7 separate regions of the Homo sapiens genome follow, and regions 2, 3, 4, 5, 6 and 7 are each reported to be linked to region 1. Evidence: microRNA targets listed by miRTarBase, many of them from high-throughput screens and not tested one by one. Region 1 holds a microRNA gene; each other region holds the end of a gene's coding sequence.

Region 1 (4,076 bases):
TCCCTAGCCCTCTTCACAAAAGATAAATTAAGGCTCAGTTAATTGTTACCATGGTAACATGGAGTGGCCACATTGAGGATCCCCATCATCCATTACTGTCATGAGGTAAAAGAGAGGAGGGGTTTGGGATCATTGTCATGGAGGAAACCATGGAAACAAGCGTTGCTAAGGGAACAGCTCTAAATTCAGAGGAAAGAAATTAGAAGTGGGGAGTGGAAGTTGGTGGGCTCAAGGGCAGGTCATTTTTTCAAAATATATTTCTTTGAGACTACAGCAGCCTCTTTTATTGCTTGCATCTTCTCCCAATTCAGATAGAGCCCAGAATTAAAGAATTTTGAAAACTAGGGCCACAATCAGTTCAAATTCATCTTCATTGGATCTGTAAGGAAAAAGCCAATGAAAATGGATTTACCCTGTTCACACCTCACAATCCTACTCTGTCTCTGAACTCTGCTTCTTTGCCAACCAGTTTCATTTATCACGGGCCAGGCTGTGCGCGAGGCACTTGGAAGAATAATGAGTGAGAGTCCCTGCTCTCATAGTGAGCTTCTAGCAGGGCAGTGGTTTGGGTGGTGGCTTTAGGGCCAGGGTTGCTCATGTAAGCTAGATCAGTCAGTCCTGCAAGCTGACATCCAGAGAGATGCTGTGGTTCTCTCCAAACTCTCTTTGTGGTGCATTTTAGCTTGTCTATTACTTCTCAAAGTTTATTTGCCAGGTCCCTAAGAAAGGCCTGTTTTTCCTAGAAATACCTAGGGTGCTAAGCTCTCCTATTAACCAAGGGGTTACCTTAGTTAGCATTGTTCTCTAATGGTACCCTCAGGTCCTTGTCTCTAAAACAATTCAAGGTTGAAGGACTAACCCTCCTCTCAACAGTGGCAAAGAGGCACGGGGCTATTTTTTTTTTTTTTTTGTAAAAGAAATTAAAGACCACACATCCATCTCTGTTTCTTGATAGATTAAAGGATGGGGAAAGGAGGTCTCAGTTTTCTACAGCTGGGAATTTCAGAGCCAGCACCTCACTGCGGGGTAGACTGAAGAGGGTCATAAAGAGCCTCTGGGGGAGGAACACCTCTCCCTTACATCTTCCACAAAAGAACTTCTTGGTTTTTCTCAGACCCATGGCAGAGATGTGCCCTGTCTCAGGCTGACAGCTGGAAGGGGCTGGGACTCAGAGCTAGGTATTGCCAGTCTTCTCCATGACTCCCCCCACTCCTCCTGCTCCTGAGCGTCTCCATCACCAGGCAAGCCCCCACCCCCATTCTGGATAGAGAGAATAAACCCAAGGATGGAAGGGTGGGCTAAAGAGGAAGTGCTCACAATTAAAAAGAGAAAGAATTAAAAGCAGCACCAATAGGGAAGGGTAATTATCCTTCAGTTGCTGCAGAAATACAATTAGGGCCATGCTCTCTGAGCCGCCAGGATATTGTGGCTTTTGCTAATTAAGGAGCGGATGTGTCCTGCCAGCGCAATTAGAGGCTGGCCCAGGCAGCAGGGGCTTTGCCTCTCCTCCACCAGTGCCACACTGCAAGGGAAATTAACCAGGGAGCCCAGCGCTGTGCCTGCAGGGAGGGGATGACTGGGCCAGGATTCCACCAGCCTCCTGTCCACAACCATTTCCCCTTTTCCTCTTCCTGCTCTGCTTACCCCAGCACCACCACTCTGACTTCATTCTGAAGCTTCCAGGGCTCAGTAACCACAGGAAGAATTTTCACCATGGGCCATGCCCATAGGCTTCCAGAAGGGGGAGGCACCAGTAGAGAGGGGTCACCATTTCCAAGCTCTAGTTTCTCTTCTGCATGGTGGTTCAATGCTTTATGATTAGTAAAGGAAAGAGAGAAATGAGCCACTTGCCTGCTTCTCTTTAAAAATAATTCCCCTGTTTGTAAAGGAAATATGCTCAAATTGGGTGCAGTGGCTCACGTCTATAATCCCAGCACTTTGAGAGGCTGAGGCAGGAGGATCACTTGAGCCCAGGAGTTCAAGACCAGCCTGGGCAATATACTGAGACCTTGTCTTTACTAAAAAAAAAAAAAAAAAAAAAAAAATTAGCTGTAGTCTCAGCTACTAGGGAGGCTGAGGTGGAAGAATCACTTGAACACTCGAGTCTGGAAGGTTGAAGCTGGAGTGAGCTGTGATTGCACCACTGCACTACAGCCTGGGTGACAGAGCAAGACCCTGTCTCACCAAAACAAAACAAAACAACTGTGTCCATTATAGAAAGTAGAACACTCCAGAAAAAAGGGAAAAGTAAGAAAAAATAATTTCTCCAGGGAATTCTGAGGTGAGGAGAGGTGTTCAAAGATGAACTTAGTAATAGGAGCGGAGACAACGCCTCGCCTGAAGGAGCATCCAGACCGCTGACCTGGTGGCGAGGGGAGGGGGGTGGTCCTCGAACGCCTTGCAGAACTGGCCTGGATACAGAGTGGACCGGCTGGCCCCATCTGGAAGACTAGTGATTTTGTTGTTGTCTTACTGCGCTCAACAACAAATCCCAGTCTACCTAATGGTGCCAGCCATCGCAGCGGGGTGCAGGAAATGGGGGCAGCCCCCCTTTTTGGCTATCCTTCCACGTGTTCTTTTTTGTATCTTTTGTGTTTCCTAGAAAACATCTCAGGTCACCACCCTAAACACCCATCGGCAGACTCTTCCAGAAACATGGACAAACTATGGTGTGAGCAGGGAAGTGGGGCAGGGTCTCTGTTTTCAGGGAGCAGTGGACTGCTTCCATACCACTACCTGAAGGGCAGGGGGAGAAAAACCCTCCTTAATTACTAATTCCCCCAACAATCACTTTGGGGCACCTATAATGGAGGCACCTTGTGACTCCACATCCTGGGGCTCAGGGCCTCATTGTCTGTGGCCCGACAGCCACAGTGTATGCGGGCACCGAGAGGTATGCACTGGAGACCGAGGTTCCCGGATGTTCAGTGTACCTGGCAGCAGGGGGGACACACCTGACCTCGGAGCTTGTCTGGTGCCTGCTCCACAGCTGAGGGAGTGGACTTGTGTGTATGGAATTTCTTGGTCCCAGTACCTGCCTCTGTGCTGCTACATCCAGAGGTGTGGCCAAGGGAAAAAAGCCCAGTGCTTGGGGACCATCCCCCACTGTGGCAGGAATACAATTAGAATTAGTGATCAGAAAAAGCATTTCCCAGCCTTTTATTTATTTATTTATTTATTTATTTATTTATTTATTTATTTATTTTTGAGACAGAGTCTCACTCTGTCCCAGGCTGGAGTGCAGTGGTACAGTCCTGACTCACTGCAACCTCCACCTCCTGGGTTCAAGTGATTCTTGTGCCTCAGCCTCCCGACTAGCTGGGATTACAGGTGAATGCCACCAACTCAGCTAATTTTTTGTATTTTTGGTAGAGAGAGGGGTTTGCTATGTTGGTCAGGCTGGTCTCGAACTCGTGACGTCAGGGGATCTGCCCACCTCGGTCTCCCAAAGTGCTGGGAGTATAGGCATCAGCCACCTTGCCTGGCCTCCCAGCCTTTCTGCCTGGGATCCCTCTGCCTGGGGGGTACCTTGCCCTAAGGTGAGCACCAAGTTACAGTGATGACACTTTCAGTGGAGATTAATTTTCAAGCAACAAATCCAAATGCCCTCCCTATTCCTAAGTATATTCCCACCCTCCTCCATCCATACAGCAGAGGAGACTAAAGCATATTACAAACTAAAGTTGGGGGTTGGGGATCGTACTCATTTAGGGAATGCTAAAAATGCAACCATTAGCTGAGCTCATTCTACCTCTTCCGGTTGCTAGCTGTGTGACCTCTGGCAAGGCACTTGACCTCTCTGAACCAAGTCAGCCCTTCACTTCTACCCAGAGACTTTGGCTGCCTCTGCTTCTGCTGCTCCCTATCCTACAAACTGGCTCTCTTCTTCTGCACTTCCAGTCTTAAATTTCCCTTTACTCCTAACCCTGCCTGAAGCCAGTGGGAAGCCAGTCCTATTAGAAATCTCATTTACACTTCAGAAGTCTGCAAATTGGTGTCACTCAGCAGGTATCTGTCCTTCACAGCGGGAGAGAAGCCCAGATTGGGCAGGAAGGGCAGAGCTGGAGAACAGGAGA
Region 2 (4,076 bases), not on the chromosome of region 1:
ATAAAAAAGGGGAAGGAAAGAGAGATTTCAGGGCAGGAGGTGTGGCTCAGAGTCTGGACTTGGTGGGGGCCCCTAGGATTCTGGTACAGGAGGGTGGAAGAGGAATTTGGAGGAGACTCCTTTGATAGGAGCTTTACAGTTAGAAAAGGTAACTGGAGAGAGGGGAGGGAAGAGGCAAAAGGGTAAGAAAGAGAGAGGGCATGTCTTACCAAAGGAAGGGGTAGGTGGAGGTGCAGAGGGTTCATGGGCACATCTGGACTCTACCACTGGCCTGGGCCTGGGCTTTCCTCTGGCATGGGCTAGAGGGAGTCGCTGGCTTCAAAAGGTGGAGCCTATTTTGCCAGTTCCAAGGGGTCTTTAGCCCCTTCTCAACATCTTGCAATACACAAGCGTCATCTCAGAGTGAAGCCATAGGATTAAGACCACACGGTTGAAGCTCTAGGCCCACCAACCCCCCTCCATCTCAGCCCCGGGATTATGGGTTACTCTTACTGCCCCAGTATCCAGCTCAGCTCACCAGTGCCCCTATCCTGGCTTCTATTTGTCAAGTTCCTGAAGCACAGACCTCCTTTTCTGAAGCTGGTTTCAACCTCCTTTAGGCTGTCCACATTATTTTTATGGCCCCATGACTTCTCAAAGCTCCCTCTCCTCCCCCAAGTCTGCCACCCCCCAATTTTCTCTCTGCTATAATTGCTTGGGACTGGAGATGGTAGCTCATCAACAGATCTTGGTTGCTTATGTATTTTTGTTGCCCCTGCAACCACTCTTCCTTCATTATTATTACACATTTATTATTTTTATTATTCACCTGAGCTGGAGAAAATAAAGTGGAGAACAGCTAAGAGGCTGGGACTCCCATTATTTTGGGGTAGAACTTTTGTTTTCAAAAAATCACATAATCATAATTCATGTTTTAATTATTATTATTATCAATATTAATATGATGAAGCAACTCTGTACAAGGACTATATAAAGGGAAAACGTGCTAAAGACAGACGTTGGAATAGGAGAATTACACTACAGAGAGCTGGGGAGGCAGCTAGGGGAAGGGCAACTATCCACAGGGACTACACTAGGTACCAGCGACAGACACAGAGAACAAGACACAGATTGACAGAGAACCTCACAGAAGTCAAGTTTAAAGCAAATGGAAAGAGAATATTGCATATCTTTGTCCCCTCACTCCTTTTAGAGTGTTCTGGTCCCTCTTCATTATTAGATTGGGAATCAGGTTAGTCTGGAGTGGTAGAGCTCAAATCCAGCACCCTAGAGCCCAGAGGTCACAGGAAGGGCTGCATAAAGGGGGTACAGTGGGTGACCAGTCAAGGTGGGGAGTGCTTCATGCCCAGGGGAAGACCACAGGAGACTGCAGACAGCTGGAATGGTGGTAATTTGGGGGAACTTGTACATGGGTGAAGCAAGTATGTGTGGATGGGGAATTGTCAGGTGTCAGATACCCAGCGGGGGATGGAGGCATGTGATTTTATCTCCATTCTGCTGGGCCATGTGGGGATTATGAGGCTGCCTGCTTGCGAGTGCACTAGGGAGAGTGGGGTGGGCCCAGTGCTGTGCTGGGCTCAGCTGTGTGTATGTGTTTGCCTTTGCCTCTGCCTGTACAGAAGCTGTGTGCTGGTGGGAGAGTAAAAAGCTCGGTGGATTGCCTTTGGAGAGTTTGTTAGGGGAGACTCTCCCCATATGGGAAACACTCCAAGCCAGCAGGCCAGTTTCACACTGTCCAGGCTGCAGTTAACTCCCATCAGTGCCCTGCTTCTCACCCCTCTTGCTCCTGGAAAGGGCCGGACAGCAGATGGGAGGCTGGGGGACTCTTGGGGAGAAGGATAAAAATGAAGTACAGAAAGGTTGATGGTTCTCTCACTGCTCCTCTCTTCCAAGCCAGCCCAGCGTCTACTGGGCTGGGGCTGGGGTCTGAAGGAGTCTGGATGAAAGTCCTTCCCACTCAGAGAAGCCATTCTCAGACCTCCAATGGGTTCTAGGGCTGTGCCCCTCCCTCTGCTCTGGTCCATGTGCTAGGCTGTGGAGGTTTGCAGGCCAGGAGGCGGAGGCAGCCCTTCTGAAGACAAAGGGCAATGTTGGGGGGCGGGCGAGGAAGAGAGAAGGGAGTTGGGTGGGGGGCTGGAGCGCCCCCCTCCTTCATTCTCACGGGCCTGGGAAACTGGGGCTGAGTGGGACCTCAATGGCTGGTAGCCCCTTTAAGGGTGAATTCTCCTCCCGCCTCGTAAATTACGCTGGTCCACCCTCTGGCCGGCCCGTGAGGCAGTGACCGTGAACGCCAGCGGGGAAGGGAGAATCAGAGGCCTCGGCTGTGGCTGTCAGAAATTCTCCCGGCCAATCAGTGTGGTGCTCCGTAGCCCCATCTACAGCCTCTTGCACTTTCTTTCTGGAGAGCCAGCTGGGGACCTCTGGGGTGGCTACTGAACCTGAGGCTGTGTCCCCTGGGCTCTCAGGTCCCTGCTTGCTGCATCAGGCCTGCAGCCACCGCAGGCAACGGAGGAGTGGATGGCAGCACACCTATGAACAGACATTCGCCCGGTGCGGGCAGCGGGATCAGGAGAGGGCTGGGGACCAGGACACTGTTCTGGTCCTAGAGGGAACATGAGGCTGATAGTCCTTGTCCACAGCCCGGCCAGCCAAATGCCCAAGCTTCTGCCCACTGGGTGTCCTGGGGGACCCAGACCCAAGCAGACTCTGGTTCTTGCTAATCATTTTCTCACAAACCACACTTCCTCCTTGGTTCCCCACTTCCTCCAGCCCTACCAGAGACACCTGACTCCCTCAGCTCTCTCCGCTGACCCTCCACCCTCCTCTCTCTTCCCAGCCTCTTCTAACCCCAGGAACTGTGAGGTTGAGGTGCCTTGGTTCCACTGGCCCTGCTCTTTGCTCCTGACGGCAAAGAGAATTAAGACCATGGAAGGGAAGTAGAGGAAGGGGACATCTGGGCCGCTGCTTCTCCAGATCCTCAGCGGAGGTGCAGTGCCCCAGTCCTGCCTCAAATAAACCAGCCCGCAGCACCTCAGCCTTCCTGCCCCTGCCAACCGCAGGCAGCTGCCGGCTTCTGCTCTCCCTGGCTAGGTTTCTTCCCTTCTCTCTGGGACCTGGCAGGGTGTTTTGGGTGTGTATGGGAGGGAACCACGAACAAAACAGACAAGAGGATATCCAGGGAGGGCCTGCCAGAGACGCCTGGCGTTCTAAGTGGGGACTGTGTTCTAGGCGGCGCCCTCTTTTGCTCTCTGCCAGGGACAGGCTCAGTCTGGGGCTGGCGCCCGTGTCCTGCACCTTAAAAGAAGGAGAGAGCTTGCTCCCTCAACAGAAGTCTTTTCTTTTTCATTCTCCGGTTCTGAAACCAGATCTTGACCTGCTGGTCACTAAGATTCAAGCGGTCTGAGAGTTCCCTCCGGCGCTGGCGTGTGATGAACTCGTTGACCAGAAACTCGCCCTCCAGCTCTGCCAGTTGCAACTTCGAATAGGGCTTGCGCTTCTTCCGAGAGCGGCTGTTGATCGGGTACCAGGGCGCGCCTGGGTGGAGATGAATGGCAGGGGTTGGCCAAAGGATCAAAGGGTGACCAGTCCAGTGCCCTTGGCCCTTCCCCAGACCCTTTCACCTTCGCCTCACAGCTGGACTCCAGGCCCTTTCTCTCCCTTCTCCTTGCCGCCAGTCATCTGAATCGTCTTTTCTACCCAGACCCACATCCCCACCAACTCCCCCACTTTCTTTACTCTTTTTTTTCCTTTCATTCTTTGCTCTTACCTCCTCAACCCTACCTCCTGCTGCACTATTCATGACCCTTCTAAGTCCCTATCCCCTCCTTTTTTCCCAAACCTCTCCCCAATTTTCTTCTTCCCTATTTCCTGGTCCCTTCCTCTCACATCCTTCAGGACTGGATCCCGGATCAGTTACAACAGATATGGGCGAATGGCAGAGTAAACGCATCCACTGGCATTTCTTTCGAAATGTAAGTAATGGGGTCTGTGGGAAGGTGGAGGGAGAGGCGCCTGGGAGAACTAGGGCCGGGCTTTCTGTCCCCACCTCCTCACCCCCAGGCCTGGGGAGTCCCCGT
Region 3 (4,076 bases), not on the chromosome of region 1:
TTAGTAGAAACTCTGGACCAGTTTCAAATATGTCATTTTTTTTTAAGTTACTGAGAGAGGGAGTTTTTTTTTTTTTTTTTTAAAGCAATCACAGTAAGATTTATTTCTAAAAATTAATATTAATTGATTATAAAGAAATGTTGGAAATGTAAACAGCAAAAATACCGTATTATTTAAAAGCCATTACCAGAGTTGAAGTGTCAGTTTGATATTGAATATAGTCTGGATTAGGAAATTAGTGAGAGAGAGAAAATATCTTAGAAGTTATGTAAACCACAAAACAAAGCAGTACCTTATATTACTAGCCTCTTTTTGTTGCAGGATCTCTCCCTCTAAATTACAGCAGTTCATTCAGCAAGTAGGGAAGGTAATTCTTGTTAATCCTCTATTCTGTTGGCGATTCTTCCACGTACTTAGTAGAGTTAAGGCAAAAACTTACCGAATTGGAAGTATGTATCAGAAGGAATTCTTAATTATTCACTTTGAAATAAAAGAATTTTCCTTATAGGTTCCAAGTAGTAGACTGTACTATAATACTGCTCTTCTGAAATAAATTGAATATTTTTACCTTGCCAAAACTATCATTGAAGGCTGGAATTTTAGGTACAGTATTTTTCTGTGAATGATTTTATGTTGTTAAATATTCTTTTAAAAATTCATATCTGTAATTGTTACTGTAGAAAACCAAATACAAAGAATTCTAAAACCTTTGTACCGTCTCTGTGTATTTGAGATTACTTAAAATATCTTTTTTTCTGTTCCAAGTTCTACTCAGTGAATGTGGATTACAGCAAGCTGAAGAAGGAACGTCCAGATTTCTAAATGAAATGTTTCACTATAACGCTGCTTTAGAATGAAGGTCTTCCAGAAGCCACATCCGCACAATTTTCCACTTAACCAGGAAATATTTCTCCTCTAAATGCATGAAATCATGTTGGAGATCTCTATTGTAATCTCTATTGGAGATTACAATGATTAAATCAATAAATAACTGAAACTTGATATGTGTCACTTTTTTATGCTGAAAGTATGCTCTGAACTTTAGAGTATAGGAAATTAACTATTAGAATTTAAAGAATTTCTTGAATTTCTGTAGTTTGAAAATACGACTTTAAGCTGCTTTAGTAAAACACTTCCATTTTGTGTATAGACTGTTGGTAACTTCACTAGAGCATACATAACAACTGGAACTGGAAATTATACAAAAGTAAATTGGGAAGGATACTCCAGCATCTGACACTGGCAAAATGGAAACCTTTGAGTTTCTCTTACTGGCTGTTGAAGTGTGTGCAGTTTTTAACAATGGTTTTTACTTGGCATCTCTTTGTTGTGATTTTCAAGGTTATAAGTTGCTTTGGTCCTAGGATTGAAGTTGAAATCTGAGTTTATCAGTGCTAACCATGGTGCTAGTAGTCAAGAGATCTTGAGAATTTTGGCTGCTGAGTCTTGGTGCAGGGTGCAGGTTTTCTTTTCTTTTTTCTTTTTTTTTTTTTTGAGATAGTCTCTGTCACCCAGGCTGGAGTGCAGTGGTACAAACATGGATCACTGCAGCCTCTACCTCCCGGGCTTAAGTGATCCTCCTGCCTCAGCCCCTAAGTAGCCGGGACTACAGGTATGTGCCACCATGCCCAGTTAATTTTTGTAATTTTTTTTAGAGACAGGGTTTTGCCATGTTGCCCAGGCTGGTCTCAAACTCTTGAGCTCAAGCGATCCATTCTCCTCAGCCTCCCAGGGTGCTGGGATTACAGGCGTGAGCCATTGCGCTTAGCCATGGTGCAGGTTTTCAAAGGCCAGGAAGTATATTCATAATTTTAAGATGGGGAATATAGCAAGTTTTCACATAGGTGTGTGTAAGTCATCACATCATAGAAACTTGAGGAATTCAGTGACATTAATTTTGGATTTTCATACGTAAGTATACAATTAAATGTTTACAGGGTAGTAGAAGCACATTTTAAATGTCAGGAACTGAACTAAGTATTTGAATTACGTGGATTATCTCAAAAATTTTGAAATTGTTAAACGAGTTGAATTACTTGAATTCATTCTGTTAGTCAAATGGTGGATATTTACACCCATGTAGTTTTGAATTTAGAGTGTGTAGAGTGTTTTCAGTTACCAGACTCCATGCTTTTACCTCCTATGTGTCAGGTATAATTTGAACCTCTAAGAACAGGGTTTCTCAACCTTGCCACTGTTGACTATTTCTGAAAGACAGTTTGGTTTAGCAGACCATCCCATGCGCTTTAGCTTGTTTAGTAGCTAACTTGGGCTCTGCCACTACAGACAAAAAGCACTCTTTCCCTCCAATTCCCACAGGCTATGAGAAGAATGGAGACATTACCAAATGTCCATTGGTGGGCAAAATTGCTTCATTCCTACCTCTGTTGAGAATTACTCTAGATCCTTTGGCACAAATTACCTCAAAGTTTAAAATTGTGTAAACAAACAGTGTGTCATGTAATTGAAAAACATTAAGCAACTCCAAATAAATGCTACATTAAGAAATTAGTAATAACGTTTTCTAGAATTGAGGATCATTTTATGCATCCTTAAAAATTCTTTGAGTAGTATCTTTCTACTTTGTGTCTATCCTTGGACTTTGCAATGTAAGAATACATATGAAGTTTGGCATGAAATAGGATATGTCTTAATGAAGAAACTATTACTGCTATTTAAGAAACTTCAATGGCAATCTAAAGAAATTGTCATTTACAAATGCATCAGATACCAATGCTGCCACGAAAGATAACACACTTTTTTTCTTTGAATGTTTAGAATTGTGCTTGTGCTTTTTTTTTTTTTTTTTTTTTTTTTTTTGAGACTGAGTCTTGTTCTGTCACCCAGGCTGGAGTGCCGTGGCGTGATCTTGGCTCACTGCTCACTGCAACCTCTGCCTCCTGAGTTCAAGCTATTCTGCCTCAGCCTCCTGAATAGCTGGGATTACAGGTGCCCACCACAATGCCTGGCTAATTTTTGTATTTTTGGTAGACAGTTTCGCCATGTTGGCCAGGCTGGTCTCAAACTGCCGACCACAGGCGATCCGCCTGCCTTGGCCTCTCCAAGTGTTGGGATTACAGGCGAGAGTCACTACTCCTGGCCCTACTATGCTTCATTCAGAAAACAGACTGCTGCCTTTGTTTCTCATGTTAATGAAGTCTGCAGGCAAAGCTGCATTTAAATACAGATATCCTTGGGTAGTATTTACATGTATTTAAAAATTTGCAGTTTTCATAATTTATATATGCTTCCCAGTAGGTACTTGTCTTACTCTGTTGCTATAAATGAATACCTGAAACTGCGTAATTTATACATTAAAAAAAGGGTTATTTTGCTCGTGATTCTGTTGGCTGGAAGATTGGACATCTGGTGAAAGCCTCAGGCTGCTTCCACTCATGATAGAAGGCGAAGGGTAGCTGGTGTGTGCAGAGATCACATAGACAAGAAGCAAGAGAGAAGGGGGAAGTGGTAGGTTCTTTTTAATGACCAGCTCTTTTGGGAGCAAATAGAGTGAGAACTCACTCATTACTGAGAGGACTACATGAAACCATTCATGAGGAATCTGTTTTATTACCCAAACACCTCCCATTAAGCACCACCTCCAACATTAGGGATCAAATTTCTTTTTCCTTTTTTTTTAATCCGCTTTTAGACACTGAGTCCTGCTATGTTGCCCAGGCTGTAGTGCAGTGGCTATTCAAAGGCACAAACAGTGCACTGCAGCCTCCTGGCCTCAAGTAATCCTCCCCGTTGAGCCTTCCTAGTAGCTGGGATTACAGACATGCCTCTGTGCCCAGTGGGGATTAAATTTCATGAGGTTTGCGGGGGACATACATTCAAACTAGAGCAGTTCCCCCCCAAAAAAGCTAAAAATAATTATACTAAATTTTACTTCTTTCAAGTTTATTACCCAACTCTGGTCAGATTTTATCCTCACCACTCCACTAAAAACGCTTCTGTTAAGGTTTTATCAGTGACCTCTGTTTGTGAATTCAAGTTGATCATCAGTATCACTTTGACCTAACAGTTGATACAGCTCCTTGAAACACTCTTCCTGGGTCCCTAGAACACCATAC
Region 4 (4,000 bases), not on the chromosome of region 1:
AAGAGCACCTCATATTCTTTTGCACTCGGGCATGGCCGTCTTACCAGCTGCAGGATGGGGAGGCTTGGCCTCCTGAGGGAAGTGTTAATATTAATACTATTCAACAACTAGATGTTTTCTGCAGACAGGAGGGCAAATGGTCCGAGGTTCCTTATGTGCAAGCCTTCTTTGCCTTGCGAGACAACCCAGATCTTTGTCAGTGTTGTAGAATTGACCCTGCTCTCCTAACAGTTACATCAGGCAAGTCCATAGATGATAATTCCACAAAGTCTGAGAAACAAACCCCTAGGGAACACTCGGATGCAGTTCCGGATGCCCCAATCCTTCCTGTCTCCCCTATCTGGGAACCTCCTCCAGCCACAACATCAACAACTCCAGTTCTATCCTCCCAACCCCCAACTTTACTGTTACCCCTACAGTAAATGCCTGATGGACCTGGTGCCACTAGGGTCCAAGTTCCCTTTTCATTACAGGACCTTGGGCAAATAAGAGGGGACCTGGGCAAGTTCTCTGATGACCTGATAGATATATAGAGGCTTTCCAAAACCTAACTCAGGTGTTTGACCTTACTTGGGGTGATGTTATGTTGCTCTTAAACTCTTAACTACTACAGAGAAACAGGTAGCCCTGCAGGCAGCAGAAAAATTCAGAGATGAACAACATGTCTTCTATAGCCACTCAATAAGGAAAGAAGGTGAGAAACAACCAGCATTCACATACCCAATAGGAAGCGAGGCAGTGCCCCTTGAACAACATAATTCGGACCCCAGTGGTACCTTAGATGAGTGGCAAAGAAAACATTTTCAAATGTGCTTATTAGAGGGCCTACAGAGGACCAGAGCCAAGCCTCTTAATTACCCCAAACTCTCCATGATAGATCAAAAACTAGATGAAAATCCCTCAGCCTTTTTGGAAAGGCTGAGAGAGGCTGTAGTGAAACACACTTCCTTGTCTCCTGTTAGGTATGTTTATACCTCACATAAATAATTCAATTGAGGGACAGCTAATTTTGAAAGACAAGTTTATTACTCAGACAGCCCCTGATATCAGAAGGAAGCTAGAGAAACAGGCCATGGGATTAGATAGCACCTTACAAAACCTCCTGAAGGTAGCCACCTCGGTCTTTTATAATAGGGACCAGGAGGAGGCCCAGGGGAAGGAGAGGAAACACAAGAAAAAGGCAGAGACTCTGGTGGCCACTTTGTATAAAACCCAGTATCCCCAAGGTACACCTGCTAGTTGCTACCAATGTGGCAAACTAGGGCACTTCAAAAGGGACTGCCCAGGCAGCAAGAAGAAGCCACCTCAACCCTGTCCAGTATACAATGGGGACCACTGGAAGGCAGACTGTCCTGGGAAGCATAGGTCACTGAGTCCAGAGCCAGTCTCACAAATGGTCCAGCAGGACTGATGGGTCCTGGGGCTCAACTCCCTGGCTCCAGTGGCTCAGACTGCTGTTACTACCCGGGAGCACCAGGTGATTCTGGAGTTCGAAGGGAGGAAGGTAGACTTCTTTCTGGACACTGGAGCCAGGCTTCTGTTTTCCTCTCCAATTCAGGCCTTCGTTCCTCCCATAGCACAACCATGATGGGCATCTCAGGAAAGACTTTAACTTGATATTTTTCTCAACCTATTAGTTGCAGTCAGAGGGACCTACTGTTTACACAGGCCTTTTTAGTCATGCCTGAAAGTCCCACTCCTTTATTAGATAGAGATATTCCAGCACGTATGGGGGCCACCATCCTTATGGCTCCAGGACAAACTCCGCCTCCCCTTAGTGGAAACCAGTATTAACCCAGAGGTTTGGGCAACTCAGGGAAGAAGTGGCCGGACTATAACCACTATACCAGTCTGGATCCACCTCAAGGATCCCACTTTTTTTCCTAACCAGAGACAATACCCTCTGAAGCCAGAAAGTAGAAAAGGGCTAGACGCCAGCATTGATAACCTAAAGGCACAAGGCCTCCTTAGGCCTTGCAGTAGCCCTTGAAACACCCCAATATTAGGGGTGCAAAAATCCAATGGGGAAGGGAGACTAGTTCAGGACCTCTGCCTTATTCATGAGGCTGTGATTACGATTCATCCAGTAGATCCCAGTCCCTATACTTTGCTAACTCAAATATCCAAGGGAACTAAATGGTTCACAGTTCTGGGCCTAAAGGATGCCTTTTTCTGTATACCTTTATACCCTGACTCCCAATACTTGTTTACCTTTGAAGACCCCTCCAATCAAACCACCCAGTTAACCTGGACTGTACTGCCTCAGGGATTTAGAGATAGCCCCCACCTATTTGGGCAAGTATTGTCAAGAGATCTCTTCGAATTCTTCCATTCTCAGGTTAAAGTTTTACAATATGTAGATGACATTCTCCTCTGTGCCCCAACTGAGGAAGTTTCTTGAGACGGCACTGAGGCTCTCCTTAATTTCCTAGCTGGAAAGGGATATAAGGCTTCAAAATCTAAGGCTCAGCTCTATCAGACTTTGGTAAAGTACCTAGGTCTGGTCTTGTCAGAAGGGAACAAGAGCACTAGGCGAGGAGAGGATTAATCCCATTTCCTCCCTTCCTCTCCCCAGAACCCTCAAGCAGCTGAGGGATGCTTGGGCATTACAGGTTTTTGTAGGTTATAGATACCCAGGTATGATAAAATAGGTTGCCCTTTATATCACCTTATAAAAGAAATTCAAGTGGCTAAAACTCACTTCCTGACCTGGGAACCTGAAGGTCAAAAGGCCATTAATCAGTTAAAACAAGCCTTGCTTAAAGCACCAGCCCCCAGTCTTTCTGTAGGGAAGTCCTTTAATCTTTATGTATCATAAAGGAAAGGAATGACCCTGGGAGTTTTAATTCAAGTTCAAGGCCCAGCTCAACAGCCAGTAGGTTACTTAAGTAGAGAGCTTGACTTGGAGGCTAAAGGATGGCCAGCTTGCCTCTGAGCAGTTACAGTAGTGGCCCTGCTAGTCCCAGAGGCCACCAAGTTAACCCTGGGGAATAACCTGTTTATGCCTCACATAAATAATGTGGCAGGCTTGCTGTCCTCTAAAGCGAGTCTCTGGCTAACAGACAGCTGCCTCCTCAAGTATCAGACTTTGCTGCTAGAGGAATCTGCAGTCCAGTTAAAAACCTGACCTTGCCTGATCCCAGACACTTTCCTCCCAGAGGAAACTGGAGAAACTGAACATAATTGTGAACAGACTGTAGTACAACCTATGCCGCTAGGGAGGATCTCAAAGAAATTCCCCTAGAAAATCCAGACTGGACCCACTTTATGGATGGGAGCTCTTTTGTAGGACAGGGAGTCTGAAAAGTGGGATATGCAGTAGTCACCCTAAATAACATTGAAAATGTGCCTCTCTCACCAGGCACACACACTCAATCAGTTGAGCTGATCCCTCTCACAAGAGCACTTGAACTAAGCAAAGGAAAGACAGCTAACATTTATACTGACTCCAAGTGTACCTTTCTAGTTCTCCTTGCCCATGCTGCCATCTGAAAGGAAAGGCACTTCCTCACCGCTAATGGGTCTTGCATTAAATACCATCAAGACATCAACAGGCTATTATCCTCAGTGTTCCTCCCATGAGAATTAGTGGTCAGACATTGCAGAGGGCATCAGAAGCGGGTAGATGAAATAGCGAAAGGAAACAGGCTAGCAGACCAAAGAGCTAAGTCAGCAGTAAGAAGGCCCCAAGGTCCCAAAACACTTGAGGCCCCTCTGATTTGGGAGGGCTACATAAGGGAAATAAAGCCTCAGTATTCCCCTACAGAGATAGAATGGGCCACCTCTCGAGGTATACTTTTCAACCCTCAGGATGGTTACAATCAGAAGATTGCAAAGTACGCTTGCCAGCCTCCAGCCAATGGAAGATTCTTAAAATCCTCCACTGAGCCTTTCACTTAGGAAAGCATAAGACATCAGTGCATCCAAAGATTGTTCTCAGGAGAAAATCTACTAAAAATGGTCAAATAGGTTGTTAATACTCGTGAAACCCTCTTAAAAA
Region 5 (4,076 bases), not on the chromosome of region 1:
TGTGAGAGCCTGGGGCTCCTGGTGCCGCTGCGTTTCATCCATCCCGCCCGCTCGCCTGCCGAGGGCTGCGCCCCGTGCTGCCTCCCCCCAGAGGGCCACCCGCTGTGCTCGTGGACTGAGGCTGCGCTGCCCGGGAGGCCTTACTGCTTGGTGTCAGACTGCCCAGCTCAGAGTGCCCGTCAGGGCCTGTGCATCCGCACGCGGAGCCGTCTGTTAGGAGCTTCCAGAGTGTTCTCTCGACACTGCCAGCCCCGTGTTAGCACCTGGGCCTCAGTCCCACTTGCTCCCAGGCGCCGGTTCTGTGGTTGGTTTGGAATTAAAGTCCTGTTTGAAGTTGTCAGACACAGACATGAATTTCTGGGCGCTCCCTGAGTCAGAGTCTCAGAAGACCTGTGCAGGCTGGCGTGAGAGGAGCGGCAGCCACACTGCGGCCCCACGCCCAAGGACTGGGCTGCTCTCGAGGGGGGCGCGCCCACCGCTGTGTCCTCTCTGCCCAGCCTGGCTTACCAAGGGCTACCTCAGTGGGAGATGAGGTTGGAGGAACGAAGGCGAGGTTCCTCCTTGCTTTGGGGAGAAAAGTATTCAGGAAGTGGGTGTGTGGGAAACCTGAAGATGGCGTGCACAGGACACAGCGTGGGCGGCCTGGGCAGAAGGGCGGCTGGCTGTCCTGGAGCTGCTGCTGGAGCCTGCCCTCAGAGTGTCCCTTTCCAGTGCTGTGGCATTCTGTGGCAGCTTCCCCAGGTGTGGTGACGGGGGGGGGGCGGGGCCTCCACCTGTGACAGCCAGGCTTGAGGGTGGACGGCGTGCCTCTCCCAGGAGCCTTCCCCATGTCCTTGCCTTGCTGAGAATTGCCCTCCCATGCCGCTGAGGTGTTAGGTGGTTTAGGGCCAAAAGGGGAAAACCACTTGAGTCTTGTGGTGTGTGGTGGGCAGACACCACAGGGTGGCATCACCTGGTGGCATTTCCAGAACCTCAGCCCCGATTCCAGCACCCACCACCGCCTGACCCTGTGTAACCTGCTGTCCCGGGTCCCAGAGTGCACTCTGCCCCGCTGCTCTGCTGCCTGTCCTGGGAAAGTATCTTTGCCCCACTAGGAAATGTAAACAGGAGGGCTTGGGGAGCGTGGGCACTTTTCTCATGAGCAGCTACTGCGGCGTTGGCAGGACTCGCTGCTGCTGCTGCTGCTTGTGTAGGTCGGGGAGCCAGAGATCCCCGAGGACGCGCGCCGGACAGTCGGCACTGACCGGCCCACCTGGTAGCAGAGGACACCCCCAGCCCCCCAAGCATTGAAGACATAGTGTATTTCCTCGTATCCTTTCTCCCTTGGGTGTAGTTGGGGTGGGGAAGCAGGGAAGGCTGGTGCGATCTCCATTCCTTGGGCTCCACGTCCGAGTTCATGGTGCGCCGCTGTGCTGGGAGCTGCAGTGGTAATGTGTGGGACACCTTGACCAAAGGGGAGCTTTGTCTCGTGTGTTTTGAAAAAGGCTTAATGAAGAGAATGTTGTTCATTCTTAGTAGTATAGTTTGCAATTCTTAATGGCAAATAATAAGTTTCAGTAGAAAACAAACCTTGTGTCTATTTTTTCCTTAAGTTCTAATTGAATGTGAGTTCCAGAAAAAAAATAAGTGAATGTTTCAGCCCGTTCACACGTAAAGGATGTGGCTGCCTGCGTGGCGGGCTGTGGGGCCCTGAGCAGGTGTGTCCCCAGCCCTGGCAGGGGGCCTGTCCTGCCTGCAGCCTGGCTCTCTACCAGCCGTGGCATCAGCCACCTCATACAACCCTAGAAGGAAAAAGTGCAAGGAAAATAGGATTTTAGGAAAGTAAAATGGCGGTTCCCATCTTCAGCAGGAGGAAGTCACAGGAAGTGCCTGGAGTTGCAGGGTTTGCCTCGATTTGAATCATAGCAAAGCCTTCCCCAAGTGCGCAGTGACTGTCCTGGCCTGTGGGAGGCCATGCCTGGGGCACAGCAGGGGGCTTGGTGAGGACATTGCTCACTCTGGCCAGTGCATCCCTGTGGGCAGCCCTGGTATAGGTGTGAAGGGCCCAAAGCCAGATCGGAGGGGGCCCTGCTGGGTCCCCGGTGAGGTGGCTGAGGACTTGTGGCCTCTCCGATGCTCGTATTCGCTTCTTGTGGCTGCTCTAAAAGATGATCACATTCAGTGCCTGGAACAGCACAGCCTCTTCCAGACCCGGAGGGCAGACAGCCATATCGTGCTGTGGGCTCTAGGGGAGAACGTTGCTGTGCCTTTCTAGCTTCTGGATGCCAGAAACTGCTTGGCTCATGGCTCTTTCCTCCAACCACACAGCCAGCAACATGGCATCTCTCCAGCTTTTGCTGTTGGCATCTCATTTCCTGACTCGGACCGCCTGCCTCCCTGTTATGCGGACCCGTGATGGGCCAGGCATGGTGGCGCCAGCCTGTAATCCCAGCACTTTGGGAGGCTAAGGTGGATCACTTGAGCCCAGGAAAGAGAGGCTGCAGTGAGTCAAGATTGCACCACTGCACTCCAGCCTGGATGACAGAGTGAGACCCAGTCTTAAGACAACAAAAAAAGGCCCCTGTGATGACACTGGGCCCACCTGGATAGTCCAGGAAAGTCTCATCTGAAGGTTCCTCACCCAGGCCCATCCCACAGCCCCTGGCAATGCTTACCCAAGAGTGAAATCCTTTTGTTTTGCCTGGGTTTGTCTCTTGGCCACAGAAGGGTGCTGAGACCCACAGCTGCTGCCCCCACAGATGGGGGACCCTGCCTGCCTTCTACTCCAGCACACTGTATGCTGCTGTCTATGCGGAGTGTGCTCTGTGGGACAGATTCTGCCAGGAGTGTCAAATCATTCCTTCTAAGTGTCACTTAAAAGGGGATGCAATGGGCTCGGCATGGTGGCTCATGCCTGTACTCCCAGCACTTTGGGGAGGCCAAGGCAGGTAGATCACTTGAGCCCAGGAGTTTAAGACAAGCCTGGCTGGCAACATAGCGAAATCCTGTCTCCACAAAAAAATTACCCAGGCACAGTGAAGGCCTGTAGGCCTAGCTACTCAGGAGGCTGAAGTAGGAGGATCACCTGAGCCCAGGAGGTCAAGGCTGCAGTGAGCCACGATCGTGCCACTGCACTCCAGCCTGGGCGACAGTGAGACCCTGTTTCCAAAAAAATAAAAAATAAAGGATAGGATGAGAAGTTAAGCTCCAGGGTTGCAATGAAAATAGCAGAGTTAACTTAGGTGAGTTCAGGACGTAAGCTGTGATGACACTCGGATATAGCCTGGCTGGACCCAGCGAGCCCAGGGCATGGCTGCAACTGTTCAGACCCACAGTGGGACTCCCTCAACTAGGCAGGAACCAGGGTCCAGGAAGGCCCTACTGGGCCCAATGAAGGCTCTTCTCTCCTGGGATGGAGGTTCCCATTCAAAGCCAGCTCCGTCCTCAGTCTAAGAAAAGTGAAGCGTTCCACAAACAATTTTCAGGTCGTTTTTTACTAGTGTCTGGAAGACATTTAGGAGAATTCCAACTGATTACCATTTACAGTGATCACAATGAAACTGCTCAGAGTTATCACTGAACTTCAGTAAGAAAATACAACAGAGTGCCATCAGGACAGGGGAGAGGGCAGGAGACTGCTCCATCGCTCTGCTCATGTCCACACTGCCAAGGTCCCCACCACGGGGGTCCCCAGTGCACCCCAGCTCCGGGGCAGAAGAGGCAGCCTGCAGATCTCTGCTGCCGGGAAAGAGCTCCTGAAGTTGTGGGGTCTGGACTCTGCTGGGGACGGGGCCTTCCGCGAGTCTCCCACCTCTCGGGGGACTGCAGGGAGAGGCGTCTCCAGTGGGCAGCCTTGGGTCACTTCCATAGCTCCCCCAGCGGCTTCTCTGTGGCAGTGCGGATGGCGTCCTCAGAGAGCACGCGGATGTCCTCATGGACAGCTTCGATGCTTTTGGAAGCATCCACCATCTGTTCCCACCGGGGTTTCAGGAGAAAAAGAGGCTCATCAGCACGTTCCAGGCTGGTCACGGGAGCCCACGCCTGTAATCCCAGCACTTTGGGAGGCCCACGAGGGAGGACTGCTTGTACCCAGGAGT
Region 6 (4,076 bases), not on the chromosome of region 1:
CACATAAAACAAAAACAATCTATTTTGCTCACAAATCTGCAGTTTGGACAGGGCTTGAGAGGGACATCACTGCTCAGTGGAGGTTATGTGAAGTCTCCACCGAGATTTAAATGGCTGGGGGCTAGGATGATCTGGAGGTGTTTTTCACTCACATGTCTGGCACTTGGGCTGAGATAACTGAGACGCTGACCACAGTTGGGACTGTCACAGGAGTGCCTGTGGTTGGCTTATACATGTATTTTAAGCTTCATCACAGCATCACAGCATCACATCCTCAAGGTAGTCAAACTTCTTTTTGTTTTTTTTTTGAGACAGTCTCGCTGTGTTGCCCAGGCTGGAGTGCAGTGGTGTGATCTTGACTCATTGCAACCTCTGCCTCTCAGGTTTGGGAGATTCTCCTGCCTCAGCCTCCTGAGTAGCTGAGATTACAGGCACCCAACACCACACCTGGCTACTTTTTTGTATTTTTAGTAGAGATGGGGTTTCACCATGTTGGTTAGGCTGGTCTCGAACTCCCGACCTCAGGTGATCCGCCTGCTTTGGCCTCTCGAAGTGCTGGGATTACAGGTGTAAGCCACAATGCCTGGCCTAATTTTTGTATTTTTAGTAGAGATGGGGTTTCACCATGTTGATCAGGCTGGTCTCAAACTCTAGACCTCAGGTGATCTGCCTGCCTCAGCCTCTCAAAGTGCTGGGATTACAGGCATGAGCCACAGCGCCTGTCCCAAACTTCTTACATAGTGGCTCAAGCTCCAAAGGCAGGTGTTCCTGGCAAACACGGTAGAATCCTCACGGCGTTCTATGACCTCGCCTGCAAAGTCACTGCCGCTCTACTCTAGTGACTGAAACAGTCACAAGTTCATCCAGATTTGAAGGAAGGGGACATAGGTCTCCCATCTCTCTCTTTTTTTTTTTTTTTTGAGACGGAGTCTTGCTCTGTCGCCCAGGCTGGAGTGCAGTGGCATGATCTCGGCTCACTGCAAGTTCTGCCTCCCGGGTTCACACCATTCTCCTGCCTCGGCCTCCCAAGTAGCTGGGACTACAGGCGCCTGCCACCACACCCGGCTATGTTTTTTTTTTTTTTTTTTTTTTGTATTTTTAGTAGAGACGGGGTTTCACCATGTTAACCAGGATGGTCTTGATCTCCTGACCTCATGATCCGCCCACCTCGGCCTCCCAAAGTGCTGGGATTACAGGCATGAGCCACTGCACCCGGCAGGTCTCCCATCTTTTGATGAGGGAAATGCCAATGAATTTACAGCTATGTTTTAAAATTACCATAAACAAGCCTGGTGCAGTGGCTCACACCTGTAATCCCAGTACTTTGGGAGGCTGAGGCAGGTGGATCACTTGAGGTCAGGAGTTAAAGACCAGCCTGGCCAATATGGCGAAACCCCATCTCTACAAAAGAAATAAAAGGCCAGGCGCGGTGGCTAATGCCTGTAATCCCAGCACTTTGGGAAGCCGAGGCAGATGGATCACAAGGTCAGGGATTTGAGACCAGCCTGGCCAATATGGTAAAACCCTGTCTCTACTAAAAATACAAAAATTAGCCAGGCATGGTGGCAGGTACCTGTAGTCCCAGCTACTCGAGAGGCTGAGGCAGAAGAATTGCTTGAACCTGGGAGGCAGAGGTTGTGGTGAGCCGAGATTGTGCTATTGCACTCCAGCCTGGGCTACAGAGCAAGACTCCTTCTCAAAAAAAAAAAAAAAAAAAAGAAAAGAAAAAAGAAAAAAAAAGAAAAAGAAATACAAAAATTAGCTGGGCGTGCTGGCACATGCCTATAGTCTGAGCTACTTGGGAGGCTGAGGCAGGAGGATCACTTGAACCCGGGAGACAGAGGTTGCAGTGAGCTGAGATCGTGCCACTGCACCCCAGCCTGGCCAACACAGCAAGACTCTGTCTCAAATAAATAAATAAATAATGGCCGGGCATGGTGGCTCACGCCTGTAATCCCAGCACTTTGGGAGGCCGAGGCGGGTGGATCACGAGGTCAGGAGATCGAGACCATCCTGGCTAACATGGCGAAACCCTGTCTCTACTAAAAATACAAAAAATTAGCCAGGCGTGGTGGCGGGCACCTGTAGTCCCAGCTACTTGGGAGGCTGAGGCAGGGAGAATGGCATGAACCTGGGAGGCGGAGCTTGCAGTGAGCTGAGATTGCGCCATTGCACTCCAGCCTGGGTGACAGAGCCAGACTCTATCTCAAAAAAATAAATAAATAAATAAATAAATAAAATAAAATTACCATAAACAGTTTTACTGTGATAAGCGTAGTTTTTCTTTGTATTTATTCTGCCTGGCATTTACAATTCTTCTTGAATATGTGGCTTGATGTCTTTGACATCAGTTTTGGAAATTTCTCAGCCATTATCTTTTCAAATACGCTTATATTAATAAATGCTATGTAAGCTGGGCGCGGTGGCTCATGCCTGTAATCCCAGCAATTTGGGAGACCGAGGCAGGTGGATCACTTGACATCAGGAGTTCAAGACCAGCCTGGCCAACATAGTGAAACCCTGTCTCTACTAAAAATACAAAAATTAGCCGGGCATGGTGGCACATGCCTGTAATCCCAGCTACTCGGGAGGCTGAGGCAGGAGAATCGCTTGAACCCAGGAGGCAGAGGTTGCAGTGAGCTGAGATCATGCCACTGCACTCCAGCCTGGGCAACAGAGTGACTCTGTCTCAAAAAATAATAATAATAATAATAATAAATGCTATGTAGTGTCAATGTCAAGGAGACAAAGGAGTGATTCCTCTAGGGTTACCACAGTACGATTTTCCAAGTTCTATTCTTTTTTTTTCTTTTGAAACGGGGTCTCGCTGTGTTACCTGGGCTGGAGTGCAGTGGTGCAATCACGGCTCACTGCACCAATCTTGACCTCCCGGGCTCAAGCAATCGTCCCATCTGAGTCTCGAGTAGCTGGGACTACAGGTGTGTACCATGTTTGGCTAATTTTTGTAGGGATTGGGTTTTGCCATGTTGCCTAAGCTGGTCATGAAATCCTGAGCTCAAGCAATATGCCCCCCTTGACTTCCCAAAGTACTGGGATTACAGGTGTGAGCCACTGTACTCGGCCCCAGGGTCTGCTCTTAGAGAGGAAGTGAGAGGGAAAATAGATCGTAGTAATTCACCCTTGGAAGAGAGTACAGACTTAACTATTCTAGAGACAGGTCTCATCTCCTCCTGTCAAAAGAGTCTTCTCTCACGTTTATAATGAAAAGGTCAGCTGCCTTTCCTCATATTAACACCCCTCTGTATGTTTCTGGCCAAAGAAAATTCTACCCTGCTACTGATGGTTGAACAGCAAACATTAAGTGACCATTCTTTCATAGTGATGGAAAAAGTCACCAGCTTTAAAGCTCACCTGTGACTCAAAACATTAACTAAAAAAATCTAGAAGGAAACACAAATGTTAACTGGTGGGAATGTTTTTCACTTATATGTGTCATATGCCTCTTAATCTTCTACAACAAGCAAGTTACATTAGTAAAACTAACGACAAAGCTTATTCAACAAAGTTACGTAAAATACACCATTAATGACAAAGACATGGCTTTAATGTTATCCAGGAGACATCTGATTCACATAGGGTTACTGAACACTAGAATCTGATCTTGAATCTCTCATGTCAACAACAGACAAATGCATTACAATTTAGGGACAGCTGTTTTCTGGGTACCTCCCAGGTGTTTGCAGAAGAAGGCTAGAATTTGCTTCCAGGCATCTTCCTGGGCCTTAGAATGAGCCCTGGGCTCCCCACCCCATATAACATGTTTGTTCAGTAATCTGTGAAGGGAAGCTGGGCACAGGGGGAAGTAAGGAGGCTCGATGTAATGCCCAGTCCCAGGGTAACAGATGATCTGGGGTTTTTCCTTTCCATGGGCCTGTAACCGTTCAGAGACTGTTTGGGCATACAACTCACTTCTCCAGTTATGGTCATCCTGACCAACAATGAGCAGGATGGGCCCCTGGGCCTTCTCTATTGGAATCATGCTGGGGTTCTTGTACCCTCCTACGAGAGCATTCCTTATATCCACAATGTCCACGAGGCCTGAGAAAGCTACCTTG
Region 7 (4,076 bases), not on the chromosome of region 1:
GGATGTTCTGGGCAAAACACCAACAACTCACAATGTTCTCAGCAAAACTTCAGGAATACTGGAGTAAAAGGAACTAAGACAGATACGTGTTTCTCTTCTTTATTAATCAGTCGAGAGATACAAAGACTTAATAAAAAGTTACACAGAAGGTTCAAACATCACTGAGATCTTCAGGCATCACTCGTTTCACGACAATGGCCACCTGTTAAGACTATGAAACAGAAGCTGGGCGCTCACAGGCGCACAATAATTCAAGTATCTTTCATTCCAAGTAAACCCGACATGGAATTTCAAACACAATGGGCTGCCAATGGAGGGAACCTGTCTGTGGCTCCAGATTTGCTGTAACATGTCTGAGGGGCCTTTGGGTTAAAGTTGCCACGTTAGTGGGTCATGTCTCCTGGAAAAGTGAGACAGGCCCCACGAGGCCAGCCAGGCATTTTCCACAGCAAGTGCCATGAGAAGGAGGTGGGCAAAGTCCTAAGAGAAACCATCCAGGTGTCCCGAGTGGCAAAGTGCACAGGTAGTAAGTGGCCATTGTCCCCAGCCGTGGGAGTGGAGAGGATGGCTAGGATTATCTCTGGAAAAAAAAGAGCAGCCCTCTAAGGAGGGTGTCAAACAGTGGAAGAAATCTGAGAGCACACAATGGCAAAGGCATGGGGTGAGGGCATTTCAGGAAGGCTGTGCTCCAGGGGATGTGAGGGTAGCACTATTCTCCGGAAGACCAACGGGAACATGAGGATGTCAAACAGCCAGAAGTCCCAGTTGGCTCCTCGGTCATGGTGTGGCGTGGCCAACCAGGTTTCCCAGTCTGACCCTGCTAGATGATAATGGAGGAGAAGATGGAGGGATGTCACGGGGCACACTCTACACTCTACTCTGGCCTATCTGGAAGCTACCTCAGTCATGAGGGCCCACTTCTACAAATGGGGCATTATTTACCCATTTCATTTATGGGGAAATGAGTTCATGGGAGATGAAAGCTTACCAGAGGCTCAACAGCAGAGGATACAGAAGACCAACCCTTAACTAGTCTCTCTCAGGCACCATGGAGTTCAACGTGGGCCAAGTGCAGGATGGATGAACAGATGCACTGTCCCTTCTGTCCCAACTGTGTGGTTGAAATCCCTATGTCTTCTCACCTTTATGGCCGAGGTCTCTGTTCTACATCAGCTGATCTGCTTCCAGTGAGACTATCAAACTCAGTGCTGTCGAGGAGTTGCAGCTCCACGGTGGGCATGGGGTATGCTCGTAGTGGTTGGTGCCCAGCAGGAGTTTTCTGGCTGTGGACACTGCCCTGTGTGCAGGGCTTCTTCTCCTACTCCGCCATGCTCTTGATTCTGAGCATCTCCATCCTTACTCCTTCCTACCTGCCTTTCCTCCGCCTCACCTCCAGTTTGCAGCTGCCATCAAACTGCACACAACAAACTGCTGCAGATACCACTTAGGGAAGCATAAGGATTGGGAAGAGCTTTGTCCTTTTAGTGTTTAAAATACCTCTTAACACTATAGGGTCTAAGGAAACTTTGAAGTGCCTCACCTGGAATGTTCTCTCTTATCCTTCCTTTTAGGAACAGAAAAAGGGGCAATTTAGACAAATAAGAAGTTTGATTTCCAACAAGCAAAAGTCTCAACTGTCTCCTTTTGTAGCAGAATCATTCTCCAGCTGGGCCCCTCAGTGCTGGTGATCTTGCCGAGGTAGGAACACAGCACATTTTCAGAACCCGGGTGTCTTGGCATCCAGTTGGGTGCTCACTTTCCTTGGGTTTCTTTCTCCAGAGTGGCCAGGCCACCTGCTGAGGATATTCTAGTTTGCATAGTGACCTGATTTGTAACATCTAGAAAATAAGGTCACCAGCTGTGCTGCCTTTTATTCTGACCTTTTCTTTGGTGCAGCGTTGTTCCTGTTGTCTCTCCACTCCCACCCCAGCTGGAAAAACTCCAGTCTTTGGCTCACACCAGCAGCACCTGAGGTGGGGGGGCGGGGGTGAGCATCATCAGGGAGCTGGGGAGACTGCCCCCTTGCAGAAGGTATATGAGAGCCACACATCAGCCCAGCCTTCCTTACTTCTCAGATCATTTTATAGTCAAGATTCAACAGGTCAATAAAAATTGCCAAAAAGGCAACCTAGTACTACTTTTACAAATACTGGAAGGGGTCTGCTCATTGACTAGGCTTATAGAGGTGGTAGTCAGTTGACTCCAAGGGAAGATGGCTTCAGGTCTTGGTGCTGTTTTAGTGATAACAGTATTGAATCATTTTTGGTTAAGATCCAGCATGAACTGGAGTTTTCTGGATGGTGTCCACATTAGGTTACTTTGACGTGTCAGTGTATTCGTATCAGAGAGGCACCAAGCAGCACAGCTGATGTGAAAACGCAGCAAGAGACAGATCTGAGAAACCCAGAGCCTCCTCAGACCCCTGGGGAGGGCAGAGAACTTAACCCATACTGTCTGAAAAACAAATGAACATGTTTGCAAAGCCAATCAGCTTACTTTAGTTTATACATTTCCAGGATAATGAAAACCCCTTTTAGAACTGACATGCTCATGACAGCCACTCCCCTCAGCAAAATACAATCTGTTTTCTAATATTTGCATCCCCAACCATAGGAAAATCCTCTGGGTAAATACCTCTCTCTTCTCTCATTTCTAGGCCATGTGTAGGGTCTCTTTCCCTCCCAGGTTTGACCCATGGCCTGAGGCCTCCAGCTACAGTTCCCATTACCTTCTGTCCTCTCAGACACTCTACTTTCAGATTGAGTTGAGTTTTGGCACTGATGGGAAAACTCGGTTAAAAAACAACAACAATATTCCAGATATGTTACCAGAGAGGTCTGCTGAACACTTGAAACTTCACCAGGCAGTGAGCCCAGACCCCTTTAATAAAATAATAATCACTAAAATAATTTAAAAATCTATAAAAGACATCCAAGCTCAGACATTGTGGATGGGGGGTAAGGGAAAGAAGCTTGTTCATGGCTTGTTTTGTACTTTGTATGTGGATAAACACTTCCACATCAAACCAACACTATGTAGTTACAATAAACAACACACCCACCGAGAGAGGGGGAGGAACCGGGTTGAATCAACACATGGGGGGGCCAGGGGCACTTGGATGCTGCTTCTGCTTACAGGTGGCTTCCTTGTCTCTTTGAGAGGTGGGAAAGCCCGTGCCCTCTGGGCAAAGCCAGACCCTGTCTGCTCCCTGCCCACCTGCCCTTCTCCCTTCCTGTACCAAGTCCTTGGGCCAAGGGTTGTGGTTAGAAATGGTTTCAGTGCAGTTAGGTGGGGAGGGGTCCCGAGGGCTGGCCAGGCCACCGTCACTGTGCCCAGGGCCTCAGGCCTGTCACAAGATCACACATTGCAGTTTGTGGGTGCCTGTGGCCCGGTCTCCCCGCCATTTGGTTTTCTTCTTCTTCTTCTGGCTTTTTTCCGGAATCTGTTGCCTTTTGAAACAATGAAGGACAGAAAGACAAAGTCAGAATGGGCTTTGCTTCTCCTCTGCCCCTCTCCTCCCTAGCCCCAGATCTGAGTCAGAGGAGGCCTGTTCTGGCGGGGTTAGTGGGTGAGGGGGATGGGGATGCCATCCCTCTCCCAGTGGCTGTCCTGGCCGCTGGAGGAGGGCCTGGCAGGATAGCTTCTCTTGAGGCAATGCAATGGGGGAGATGGGGGAGGGGATAACCTAAATCGCCCTACTGATGGGAATGACTGACATTATGTTGTAGCTACATTTACATAAATCATAAGCTACATCACGTTTTGTCTTATAGAGTGCTGGCCTCTATTCCTGTGTTTCATAGTTTAAATAAAATGATGGGTCAACTGAGCGTAAAAGCCATTTCATGTTTTCTGTTAACTTTTCCTATGTCTAAAACCTGACCTTGGCACTATAGGTTCACAACCAAGGCATCACCATAGGCTACCTGATGGCAGCACATCCTAATTGGAGGCAAAATGCCCAAGAGCAAATAGTTTCTTTCTTTCTTTTGTAAAGATGGCATTTCACTATGTTGCCCAGGCTGGTCTTGAACTCCTAGCCTCAAGCAATCCTCTTGCCTCCACCTCCACCTTTG

What was found. The annotated mature microRNA hsa-miR-7-5p reads UGGAAGACUAGUGAUUUUGUUGUU and lies in region 1 at 2,443-2,466, shown strand. An mRNA with a match to its seed (bases 2 to 7 or 8) in the 3' UTR can be bound and repressed. Matches are read on the target gene's strand: a 7mer-m8 pairs with bases 2 to 8, a 7mer-A1 pairs with bases 2 to 7 and ends in A, and an 8mer does both.
Region 2: the mRNA of HOXC12 is a reported target of hsa-miR-7-5p. Seed matches in the 3' UTR shown: 7mer-m8 at 1,351-1,357.
Region 3: miRTarBase lists COXFA4 as a target of hsa-miR-7-5p. Seed matches in the 3' UTR shown: 8mer at 860-867.
Region 4: miRTarBase lists NCR3LG1 as a target of hsa-miR-7-5p. Seed matches in the 3' UTR shown: 7mer-A1 at 2,325-2,331.
Region 5: miRTarBase lists DTYMK as a target of hsa-miR-7-5p. Seed matches in the 3' UTR shown: 8mer at 3,484-3,491.
Region 6: the mRNA of ACOT4 is a reported target of hsa-miR-7-5p. The part of its 3' UTR that is shown has no 7-base or 8-base seed match.
Region 7: miRTarBase lists MRAS as a target of hsa-miR-7-5p. Seed matches in the 3' UTR shown: 7mer-m8 at 719-725 and 7mer-A1 at 623-629.

Annotation. Positions count from the first base shown.
Region 1 is chr15:88,609,414-88,613,489 of GRCh38, forward strand. MIR7-2 (microRNA 7-2) reads left to right here and starts at 2,412; the gene lies at 2,412-2,521. It overlaps MIR3529 (microRNA 3529), which reads right to left and starts at 2,511; the gene lies at 2,434-2,511. It also overlaps a transcript of AEN not described here. RefSeq lists an enhancer at 3,621-4,076.
Region 2 is chr12:53,955,786-53,959,861 of GRCh38, reverse strand. HOXC12 (homeobox C12) reads right to left here. Exons shown (of 2, transcript NM_173860.3): 2 at 906-3,534. The coding sequence ends at 3,296. It overlaps LOC105369775 (a long non-coding RNA gene), which reads left to right and starts at 3,435. Exons shown (of 3, transcript XR_944977.2): 1 at 3,435-3,520; 2 at 3,895-3,971.
Region 3 is chr7:10,930,382-10,934,457 of GRCh38, reverse strand. It overlaps COXFA4 (cytochrome c oxidase associated subunit FA4), which reads left to right. Exons shown (of 4, transcript NM_002489.4): 4 at 766-2,515. The coding sequence ends at 822. Among named protein-coding and RNA genes, the nearest start is that of COXFA4, 7.7 kb to the left of the region's middle.
Region 4 is chr11:17,372,091-17,376,090 of GRCh38, forward strand. NCR3LG1 (natural killer cell cytotoxicity receptor 3 ligand 1) reads left to right here. Exons shown (of 5, transcript NM_001202439.3): 5 at 1-4,000. The coding sequence ends at 422. Among named protein-coding and RNA genes, the nearest start is that of KCNJ11, 15 kb to the right of the region's middle.
Region 5 is chr2:241,672,290-241,676,365 of GRCh38, forward strand. It overlaps DTYMK (deoxythymidylate kinase), which reads right to left. Exons shown (of 5, transcript NM_012145.4): 5 at 3,458-3,948. The coding sequence ends at 3,838. ATG4B (autophagy related 4B cysteine peptidase) reads left to right here. Exons shown (of 13, transcript NM_013325.5): 13 at 1-1,568. Among named protein-coding and RNA genes, the nearest start is that of DTYMK, 12 kb to the right of the region's middle.
Region 6 is chr14:73,595,234-73,599,309 of GRCh38, reverse strand. ACOT4 (acyl-CoA thioesterase 4) reads right to left here. Exons shown (of 3, transcript NM_152331.4): 3 at 3,544-4,076. The coding sequence ends at 3,656. It also overlaps a transcript of HEATR4 not described here. Among named protein-coding and RNA genes, the nearest start is that of ACOT4, 5.4 kb to the right of the region's middle.
Region 7 is chr3:138,401,543-138,405,618 of GRCh38, reverse strand. It overlaps MRAS (muscle RAS oncogene homolog), which reads right to left. Exons shown (of 6, transcript NM_001085049.3): 6 at 86-3,449. The coding sequence ends at 3,350. Among named protein-coding and RNA genes, the nearest start is that of ESYT3, 31 kb to the left of the region's middle.